Linked DNA regions of Homo sapiens: region 2 is linked to region 1. The links come from fine-mapping of genetic effects on gene expression. A gene starts in region 1. The other region holds a variant in brackets. All regions are shown on one strand. Distances are between the middles of the regions. Region 1 holds the start of OXSM (3-oxoacyl-ACP synthase, mitochondrial). Region 2 overlaps NGLY1 (N-glycanase 1).

The links. PIP is the estimated chance that this variant, and not a neighbour inherited with it, causes the effect.
Region 2: its variant is the best candidate, but not a certain one, in a credible set for the expression of OXSM in blood mononuclear cells (TOPMed, PIP 0.72).

The regions. Positions count from the first base shown.
Region 1 is chr3:25,788,008-25,793,397 of GRCh38, forward strand. OXSM (3-oxoacyl-ACP synthase, mitochondrial) reads left to right here and starts at 2,083. Exons shown (of 3, transcript NM_017897.3): 1 at 2,083-2,140; 2 at 2,983-3,990. The coding sequence starts at 3,014. It also overlaps a transcript of NGLY1 not described here. RefSeq lists enhancers at 1,562-2,091, 2,231-2,300, 2,311-2,380 and a silencer at 1,909-2,128.
Region 2 is chr3:25,730,524-25,735,913 of GRCh38, forward strand. It overlaps NGLY1 (N-glycanase 1), which reads right to left. Exons shown (of 12, transcript NM_018297.4): 8 at 3,349-3,459; 9 at 1,796-1,960. Among named protein-coding and RNA genes, the nearest start is that of NGLY1, 50 kb to the right of the region's middle. The variant A/C (reference allele first, on the strand shown) is at 2,514.

The sequences.
Region 1 (5,390 bases):
GACCTCATTGTCCCTTTTGTGTTATAATAATTCCACTATAGCACCTGTTTCAACAGTTTGCACTTACTTGTTTCTATGGGTGTCTCCCTTTACTAGACCATAAACTTCTTGAAAGCAAGAGCCATACCTCTACTCATTTTTGCATTCAAACTTCAAGCATTGATAGGAAGAAAATGAGTGGTTGTTGAAAATAGCAAAAGCACAGAGATGAGAAAAGTTAGGGTCAATCAAGACATGTATAGTGAGAAAATCAGTTTGCTGGGTGGCAAGCTCATTTAATAGAGAATGGGAGCCATAATTGGAAAGATAGTTTTGAATCAGATTACAAAGAATTTAAGGCAAACCTAGGAAGTCTTAATAGGAGGGTAGGATAAGCAGAGCCCATTTGAAGATTTTGGTGCAAGAAGACACGATGGAATTGTAGCAGGAAATATGGTACCAAATATGTAAAGCCATTAAATATCATAAAATTTCCCACCCTTTTCCAGATCAAAGAAAAGGTGATAAGAGGTAGATACAAAAATGATGGTCTTTTTATTTTTCTGAAAGATTTTGTCACCTCTTAGCCAAGACGATTTTGTGATATTACAAAAGAAATAGCACATTAAAACTGTATGTTTCTTATGAGTTCAGCTTCAGAGAAAATATTGTAGGTATTTTCACACTATTATTTTAAAGACAGCAATGAAAAGAGATCAAGTTTAGGTACTTACTCATCAAGTGTTACTTTATAACCACATGTGTTTGTTTTAATTCTTCAAGAAACTCTACTTTGTCACTGAATGAGGATCAACTAGAGGTGACTGGTTAGGCCTGGGACGAAGGTCAAACTGAGCTTTGCTGAATTATTTTAAACAAAATAGATTTCCAAACTCATTTAAATCCAGGACCAACCTGGAAAGCTAAGCTTGACTCACATTCTTCTGTAGGGGTAGGAAAGAATGCAGAGCACTCTACTTGGAAACAATGGCTTCAAGAGGCATTGCCCAGAAAAAACCATAAATATGACTAGAAGGTCCAGATGAAGATTCTATGCTCAACCATTTTTCTAAAGAAGAGCAAGGACAAAACTCACGCCTGGGATAGCATGTGAAAAACAGATGTTCGATGAATACCATCTTGTCGACTTCTTGCTTTTTTACATTTTCATGTTATATTTTCCCTTTATCGGTTTGCAGTCAGCTCTAAGCAAACAGTTAATGAATTTTTCACACTTAGAAACAAATGTCTCCATTGTGACAATGGAGACAATTTTTGAGCACTGTCTCAAATCTGGTGATAATTTTTTTTTAAGTGAAAGGAAGTTTATTAGGAAAGTAAAGGAACAAAGAATGACTACTCCATAGGCAGAACAGCCTGGTGACAACTTTTAAAAAGTAAAAACTTTATTACAAAAACATTTGTTTATTGTAGAAAAGCTTTATTAAATAAAGCTAAGCAAAAATAAGGAGGGAAAGATCACAATCAGTATACATCTTGCAGACCTTTAAAGAATTATTTTTGAAAAAACGGATATATACTGTTTTGTAACTATGTCTCCTAACAAATAGTCGCAACATCTCATTAATAAATATTCACCTGCAGAATTATTTTAAACGGCTGCATGGCATTTGGATGTACCACAAGATACACAACAAATTTCCTGATGTTGGCCATTTTGGTTAATTCCACTTTACTCACAATTACTAATAACGTTGCGAGCTATAGCAATAACTTTGAAACTGCAGAGAATTTCCTTAATTCTTTCTTACAATTCCAGTAGAATACGATGGTGTCCCTTCTCCGACAAAAGGGAATATTTGGGCATTATCACTGCCAAAGAAAAATGCCTTTTTGATGGGTGAAAATGCTACCTCATCGCGTTATTGGCAGGTCCTCGATTATCGGCGAGTCACTGAGGTTCCGAGAGGGGCGTCTCTGCTCACGCAAACAGCTACCCAGCCGCCTCCCACGGTCTGACCTCAGCCAAGGTGACGCGGCTTAAAGTCAACCGGCGGAAAGAGAGTCGAACGGGACGCGTGCGTGGGAAAGCGCATGAGCGTACGTGCGAGCGCGCATGAGCGTACGTGCGTGTGCGCGTGCGCTCGAGAGCGTCATCGCCCCCGACTGTGGAGAAGTGTCCGGGGTAGCCCCGTTACAGGTATCGCTGGCTACCCTCCTCCTTCGCCCCTCCTTTCCTCCTTTACATTCAAATCAAGTCGGGGTTGAATTTCGAGAGGGGAGTCCGAGGACCTGGGGCCTGATTTCTTTTTCTCTCGCCATGCTTCTTCGGGCTGTGTACATGTGTGGTGGTGCCTGAGAGGCGATACAGGGAATGGCTACACTCTTTTACTCCCGCCCCTGGCCTTCGTAGTACCCTTGAAGTGATCCACTAGTCGTAACCCCTCCTTCCACCAATGATTCAATTGGAGAAGTTTAGAGGAGTGGAAAGACTTGTCCCCTTCCCCCATCGCAAGCTTGGTCACAGAGTGTATTGCCAACCCATGTATCCAGACGCTCAGTCTAGGGCTCTTGGCCCTGGGTAGCGTTTTGAAAAGGCTGGTTATCCTTAAGTACTGAAGATTGATAAAGCCCACTTACTTACTTAAAAGAATATGCCCTGAAATGTGTTTTCTGTGCCACTGACACCAGAAATGCTATTTAGAAGAAGTTATCAGTAATCCTGACAAAGGATGCTTCCTGCAGCTCAAATCAGGCTGGAGGTGCCTTTATATTTTTCATTGAATTACTGTTTTGGTGACTCGAATGAATCATCAATTCATTTATTTGTCTTCAAATGTCTGACGGCACTTAAGGTCTAAAAAAGAAGGTAAGTTTAAACAGATAGTTTGATGTTAAGGTATAAATTGAAAGTATGTAACATTTTCCCTGTGTTCATTAGCAGCTCATATCAAGCACCCAAAGGAACACCTTGGATGTTTTTCCTTAGGCCCTTAAGCTATTTAAAAGAATACCTCCTAGGTGTGTTGTGGTCTTTTACAGGAATGTGTTTCTGATCATCTGAATCTTAATCATGTCCAACTGCCTGCAAAATTTCCTGAAAATTACAAGCACTCGTCTTCTATGTTCAAGATTATGCCAACAGTTAAGAAGTAAAAGGAAGTTTTTCGGAACTGTGCCAATATCCAGATTGCATAGGCGAGTTGTCATTACAGGCATTGGCTTAGTGACTCCTCTTGGTGTTGGAACTCACCTGGTTTGGGATCGTCTTATCGGAGGAGAGAGTGGAATTGTTTCACTGGTTGGTGAAGAGTATAAGAGTATCCCTTGCAGTGTTGCTGCTTATGTGCCAAGAGGTAGTGATGAAGGTCAGTTCAATGAACAAAACTTTGTGTCCAAATCAGATATCAAGTCCATGTCTTCTCCCACCATCATGGCCATTGGGGCTGCAGAATTAGCCATGAAGGATTCTGGCTGGCATCCTCAGTCAGAAGCTGATCAAGTGGCTACTGGTGTTGCAATTGGCATGGGAATGATTCCTCTTGAAGTTGTTTCTGAAACTGCTTTGAATTTTCAGACAAAAGGTTACAATAAAGTTAGCCCATTTTTTGTCCCTAAGATTCTGGTCAATATGGCAGCAGGCCAGGTCAGCATTCGATATAAACTCAAGGGCCCAAATCATGCAGTATCCACAGCCTGTACCACAGGAGCTCATGCTGTGGGAGACTCATTTAGATTTATAGCCCATGGTGATGCTGATGTGATGGTGGCTGGAGGTACAGATTCTTGTATTAGCCCTTTATCTCTTGCTGGGTTTTCCAGAGCCCGGGCTCTGAGCACAAACTCAGATCCCAAGTTGGCATGTCGACCATTTCATCCAAAGAGAGATGGTTTTGTAATGGGAGAAGGTGCAGCTGTGCTGGTGCTGGAAGAATATGAACATGCTGTTCAAAGAAGAGCCCGGATCTATGCAGAAGTTTTGGGCTATGGACTCTCAGGTGATGCTGGTCACATAACTGCCCCTGATCCTGAAGGAGAAGGTGCCTTAAGGTAAAGATGGGTTATTTCCTTCGAAATATTTCTTCAAATAAGACACTTTATTGGGAATCCCAAATTAGGGAAGTTGTAGTGTCTGGCCTTGGTGTACAGTATCTCTGTTGTTTTTCTTTTTTAGACTAAACAAGATTGTTTAGTTCTTTGCTTAAGACATTTGAAGTATTTCAAAGCATTTGAACATACTTACAAAAATTGCATTTGAGTTAAAAACCAATGGAGTTGTGGAAAAGACCATGTGTGTCTTTGCCAACTTTTCACGCCTGCATTTGTGCTTAAGCATCAGTGTGCTCCCTCACAAAGTCCTCCTCTTTGACCCTTCATCAGACTTGGAAAGTAAAGTCAACCCTTCTAGATGTGTCTGGTTTTGCTCCATTTCAACAGGATTCTGTTCTTTTCAAATCAGCACTTCTCAAACTATAATCACCTAGGGATCTTATTTAAAATGCTAATTCTGATTCTGTAGGTCTAGGGTGGTGCTTGAGATTCTGTTTTGTTTTGTTTTTTTAGAGACAGGGTCTCTCTGTATTGCCCATGCTGGTCTTATCTCACTGCAGTCTCTAACTCCTGGGCTCAAGCAATCCTCTCACCTCAGCTTCCTGAGTAGCTGGGACTACAGGAATGCGCCACTGAGACCAGTTTTCTTTTTTTTGAATTTGTTTGTAGAGATGGGGTTTCACTTTATTTCCCAGGCTGAGAGATTCTGTAGTTCTAACAGGTGATGGTGATACTGCTGGTTTAAGGACTACATTTAAGTTAACTGTTATAGATTAGTGCATTTAAAATGCAAAAAAATAAAAATAAAAAGTCCCTGATAATGTGTTAATAGATAGCTAATAGTTTAGCTTTCTTAAATCATATTATGTTTTACTCAGTTAAATTAGCCAGAGTTAGCAACCTTTTCTGTAATGGGAAAAATATAGTAAATATTTTTGGCTTTGTGGGCCATGGAGTCTGTTGCAACTAATCAACTCTGCCATTGTCATGTGAAAGCAGCCGTAGACAGTATGTAAATGTGTGGGCATGAATGTGTTCCAATGAAACTATTTACAAAAATAGGCATCTAGCCAGGGCCATAGTTTACCTACCCCTAAATTATACATTTGAATTTTATTTTATTTGTTTTTGTTTGTTTGTTTTTCTTTTTTCTTTCTTTTTTTTTTTTTTAGTAGAGTTGGGGTCTTGCTATGTTGCCAGAGCAAGAGCTGGTCTCAAACTCCTGGCCTCAAGCAGTCCTCCTGCCTTGGCCTCCCAAAGTGCTGGGATTACAGGTGTGAGCTACCATGCCTGGCCTACTTTTGAATTTTAGTGAGTAGTTGCTGGTGGTAAAAATGTCAAGCATAGTAACAAAATAGATGAAGAAATGGTTATGTTCACAGGAAACCTTTCAGCATACT
Region 2 (5,390 bases), 57 kb before region 1:
TATCCATGTTTTAAATTGAACACAGCTGCGAATTAAATTAGCTCTTTTTAACTGGCTGTATTTAGATTTATACTTGTAACACACTGCATTGGCAGTGATTTGAATTATTTGTTGAATTTGGATCTTGTAATCCTATGGCTGAACCAACACTTTTAACTGCCCGCTACAGACGATGGGATAAATTAAAAAGCAAACATAAAATTTATTAGTGATAATTCACTCCTTTAAAACATATTCTGTTACTAGAGAAATGAACTGTAACAATGGCAAATTTAGAAAAAGTAGATAAATACAACTTTAATTTGTTTGGAACTGCTTGATACTGATATTGTGATGAGTTATTTTTCTTTCAAGCATTTTTCATTGCATATTTCCTAAACATTTTATTAAATGCTCTCCAGTGACTCAACTTTAGCTCCCTAAGGGCAAAGGACAGTCTATTATACTGCCCTAATGCCTGTTACAAAGCCTAGCACACTGATTTTTACCTAGTCCCTTAACTTTAGGACCTACCTATGGAAATTATATTTCCATTGTTATTTAATTTTGGAAGATTAATCATGTGGTATCTTAAAATAAATTTTAATATAACAGTAATCATGCCACCAACAATTTCTAGCCAATATCAGATATATGCAAGCATATACCAAGAAATAAACACTTTCATCAGCTGAATTCCCCAAATTCTGTATTTTCTCCACTCCATAAAGTTTTCATCTGGAGAGGAAAAACGTAAAACAGCATTCTTTTAAATGCATTAGAATCTCATTTTAAAAGACCTAAATAAGCACTTCACAAAAGAGAATGAGGATATCCAAAAGTTTAAAGAACAGGCATTCACCATAATTAGTCATCACCAAAATGCAAATTAAAATCACGATACTACTATACGCCACCAGAACTGCTAAAATGAAAAGATAGACAATACCAAGTGTACACAAAGATGTCGAAAAACTTCATATACTGCTGGTGAGAGTATAAGCTGGCATAACCATTTTGAAAAACTGTTTGGCAATATGTACTAAAGCTGAATATACTCATACTCTATTACCTAGCAATTCCACTCCTAGGTATACATCCAACAAAATGCCTAAACATATTCACTGAAAACGTGAATATAAATGTTCAGAGCAGCACCATTTATATCAGCCAAAACTAGAAATAACCCAAATAGCCATCAACAGTGAAAAATTACATTCATACAATAAATTATACAGCAATGAGAACATACCATACACGTTGCAACATGTATCTCACTGACACAAAGTTACACAAAACAAGCTATATACAAAACAGTACATGCTATATGATTCCATTTTATAAAGCACAATAACAGGCAAAACTAATATATGATGTTAGAAGCCAGAATAATGATTACTTTCGAGGGTGTAAGGCAGTGGGGAAAGAAACTCACGCTTGTTTCTACGGTTCCAGTGATCTATTTCTTATTCTGGTTGGCGATTACATGGGTGTTAAATTTGTAAACATTCATTAAGCTGTACATTTATAATTTGTGCATTTTCCTGTATATTCTTCAGTAAAAGTTACACTGCACTAAAAATTTACATAAGGTAAAAAAAATTTTAAGTCCCATTTTAAAAATGCTTTGCTAACTCTTACACGATAATGCTATGTAAATCAATTACTGGTTCTCTTCAAATGTTTGCATTTTAAAATAATTACTCTCAAGTTAACTGAAAGGTCATAGTCAATGCAGTTGGAGGATAGTATAGGAAGAGCATAGTATATGAAGCAGGAAAGTAAAAGGATCATCATGCTAGAATGAATTAAATACCTGTAGACCCATTTCACCTCGGGCTACTCTCCAAGCCACTGACCCAGATATTCTTCCCCCAAGTTCTCCAGGTTTAGGGGTTTTGGGAGATATAAATTCAACAAGCTCCACAATTATCCTCTGGAGAAGTTCTTTCCTTCTGTTTTCTGACAAAAACAGTTGCCTCTGTAATTCATGTTTTTTAAAAAAGTTGTTAAGATTAGGGGAATGTATAGGTCCATCTCTAAGCAAGAATATACTTAAAACACTTGCATTTTAAGAGGTCTTGAAACAAGTACTGAATTTTATTTTCAAACATATATTATTCAGAAAATAAAAAGGACACTGTGGAAAACTTAAATAATTTTATAAATTTTATGTTGGGAAATCATTTAACACCTATTTCCAACTCTCCATGAGCTCTACTGTCCTAGATTTATTTATAATGAAGGTAGCAACTTCTGTTTCTGGATATGATAGACTGGCTTGTGTCAGAATGTCTTACTGAGAAAAGCTAGAAAAGCTAGTGGAAACACACAAACAGAACACTCACATATAAACACCTGTTTGAGTGCAACAGAAAGCTGTAAAGGCAGCCAGAACTTGAGAAGTCAAGATTCCAAGAGAAGAAAAGAATTGAGGTGAAGGGCACATACTGCACCTCTTTTCCCTTCCAGTCATTTGTCAATTATTAAGTGGCATGAGAAGAGGCTGAGAAGCCAAGGACAAAATAGTGACT[A/C]AAGTGCTGGAAATCAAAGCAGAATTTTTAGCAGAATCACAGTGCTGGGGTAAAAATAAACTGAGGGTCAGAGTGTTCTAATGCAAGGGGATCTAGCAAATAATCCAGGTTTTCAGGTAGAGATCTCCGAAGGGCTACACATCAGGAGTAAGTGCAGATTCAAAATAGACTGAAACCTCACCTGGAATCATTATCACTGATTGGATTAATGTGCTCTGCCCTGTTCTAACTGCCTGCTACAGCAAAATTCACTGCTTATTTTTTAATTTATGAAAAAAACCCACATGTATAGAGTTAAAAATTTCAATACTATCAAAGGGGTATAAAACAAAAATTGAACCTTTCATCTTGGAACTCCAGTTCCTCCTCTCAGAAGTAGTCATTGTTAATAACTTCCTGTGCCTTGCTTCAGAAATTTCCTCACATGGACGTGTGTGTGTGTGTGTGTGTGTGTGTGTGTGTGTGTGTGTGTGTGTGTGTATGTACATACATAATACATAAATATGAGTCTGTGTCATATCCAAGGCACAGTTACACTGATAAATAAGACAACACATTTTTTGTCAGGTACTACCAATACTGAAATTTTGTTTCAAAGAACTTTGAAATGAGACAGTTTAATCCAAAATAACTCATAATATTTAAAATGAGTCCGCAAAATTTTCAATGAACAAAAAGAATATTTTTATTCTTTAATATTCAAAAAGAATATTAAAATATTCTTGTTTATAAAACAATGCTACTACTTTAAGAATTTCAATAGGCTAATAAACGGCTATTCTCGATTACATAAAAAATGTCAACTGTTCTTTCAAAAAAGATAGCCACACCATACCTGCTTATTAAGCCCATTAATAGTGTCTCGAAGTAATGCTTCTTTAACCTTAGTTCTTCTGGCAATCACCTCTTCATGTTTGCAGGAATATCGCCAAGTGACATCAACTACCTGAAACAAATAACAGAATACAAATACTTAACAAGATTACAACCATCAACCTTTACTTACTAAATACCTAGAATGTATGTAATTTTTAAATGCATTTTTTTGGAGACGAAGTCTCGCTCTGTTGTCCAGGCTAGAGTGCAGTGGCGTGATCTCAGCTCACTGCAGTCTCACTTCCCAGGGTCAAGAGATTCTCGTATCTCAGCCTCCTGAGTAGCTGGGACTATAGGCATGCACCATCACGCCTGGCTGATTTTTGTATTGTTTTAAGTAGAGATGGGGTTTCACCATGTTGGCTAGGCTGGTCTCGAACTCCTGACCTCAGGTGATCCACCCACCTTGGCCTCCCAAAGTGCTGGGATTATAAGCATGAGCCACCACGCCCAGCCTTAAATGCAATTTTTAGAATACTATCCTTTGTTTAAAATTTAAAAGTCATGGGGCCTGGTGCAGTGGCTCATGCCTGTAATCTCAGCACTTTGGGAGGCTGAGGTGAGCAGATCACCTGAGGTCAGGAGTTGGAGACCAGCCTGGCCAACATGGTGAAACCCCGTCTCTACTGAAAAAAAACAAACAAAAAAAATTAGCCAGGTGTGGTGGCATGTGCTTGTAATCCCAGTTACTCAGGAGGCTGAGGCAGGAGAATCGCTTGAACTTGGGAGGCAGAGGTTGCAGTGAGCTGGGATCATGCAACTGCACTCCAGCCTGGGCAAGAGGGTGAGACTGTCTCGAAAAATTAAAATAAAATAAAATAAAACGTAAAAGCCTATAAAATAAACGGAAGAGAATACGTCACTTATTCATTCCTAAACAGTTGATAGTTTAACCAGAAACGCTATGATAAAAAAGTGAAAATTTCAAAACATTACCTTTTTAAAATTTATCTGCAAAGCTGATTCCACAAAATTCAACAAATAAAAATTTTATCCATTTTTATTGTATTAGATTTATATTACAGAACTGATTTTTGATACAAGTGGAAAGACAATTCAATGGAGAAAAAATAATCTTTTCAATAAATGGTGCTAGAACAATTCATTATCCATATGTAAAAAAAAACTTCATACACCTTGGATCATATAAAAAAATTAACTCAAAATGGATTGCAGACATAAGCATAAAACCAAAAAAAACTTCTAAAACAAAACATAGGAGAAAATCATTGTGACCAAGGGCTAGGCAAAATTTCTTAAATATAACATCAAAAAGCACAATCCATAAAACAACCAATTGGTAAACTGAACGCCAGTTTCTTCTCTTCAAAAATCATTAAGAGCATAAAAAGACAAACTACAGATAGGGAGAAAAATCTTTGCAAAGCACATATCTGATAATGGACTTATATAAGAATATATAAAGAACTCTCAAAACCAAACAGTAAGAAAACACAATACCCAATTAAAAAAAATAAGCAAAGGGGACATATGGATGGTAAGCAAACACATAAAAAGATGCTCAGTATTATTTGTCATTAGGGAAGTACAAATAAAAACCATAATGAAATGCCACTACACACCTATTAAAGGGGATAAAATTAAAAAGTCAGATCATACTAAATGTTAGCAAGGACATGGAGAAACTGGAAACTTACATACTGCTTGCGAAAATGTAAAATGGCACAACCACGTTGGAAAATAGTTTAGTGGTTTCTTAAAAAGTTGTATGTATATCTACCATATAATGCAGCCATTCTACTCCTAGGCATTAAGCAAAGAGAAAAGGCAGCATATGCCCATATAAAGACTTGTGTGCCTGAGTGTTCATGGCAGCTTAATTTGAAATTGTGAAAAAAACTGGGAACTACCCAAATAGCCATCAACAGGTGAAATGGTAAACTATGGCACATCCATACAATGAATACTGATTTGCAGTGATGATTTCAGTGTATACAAATAAAACTTATCAAACTGTACAATTTAAATATATGCAGGTTA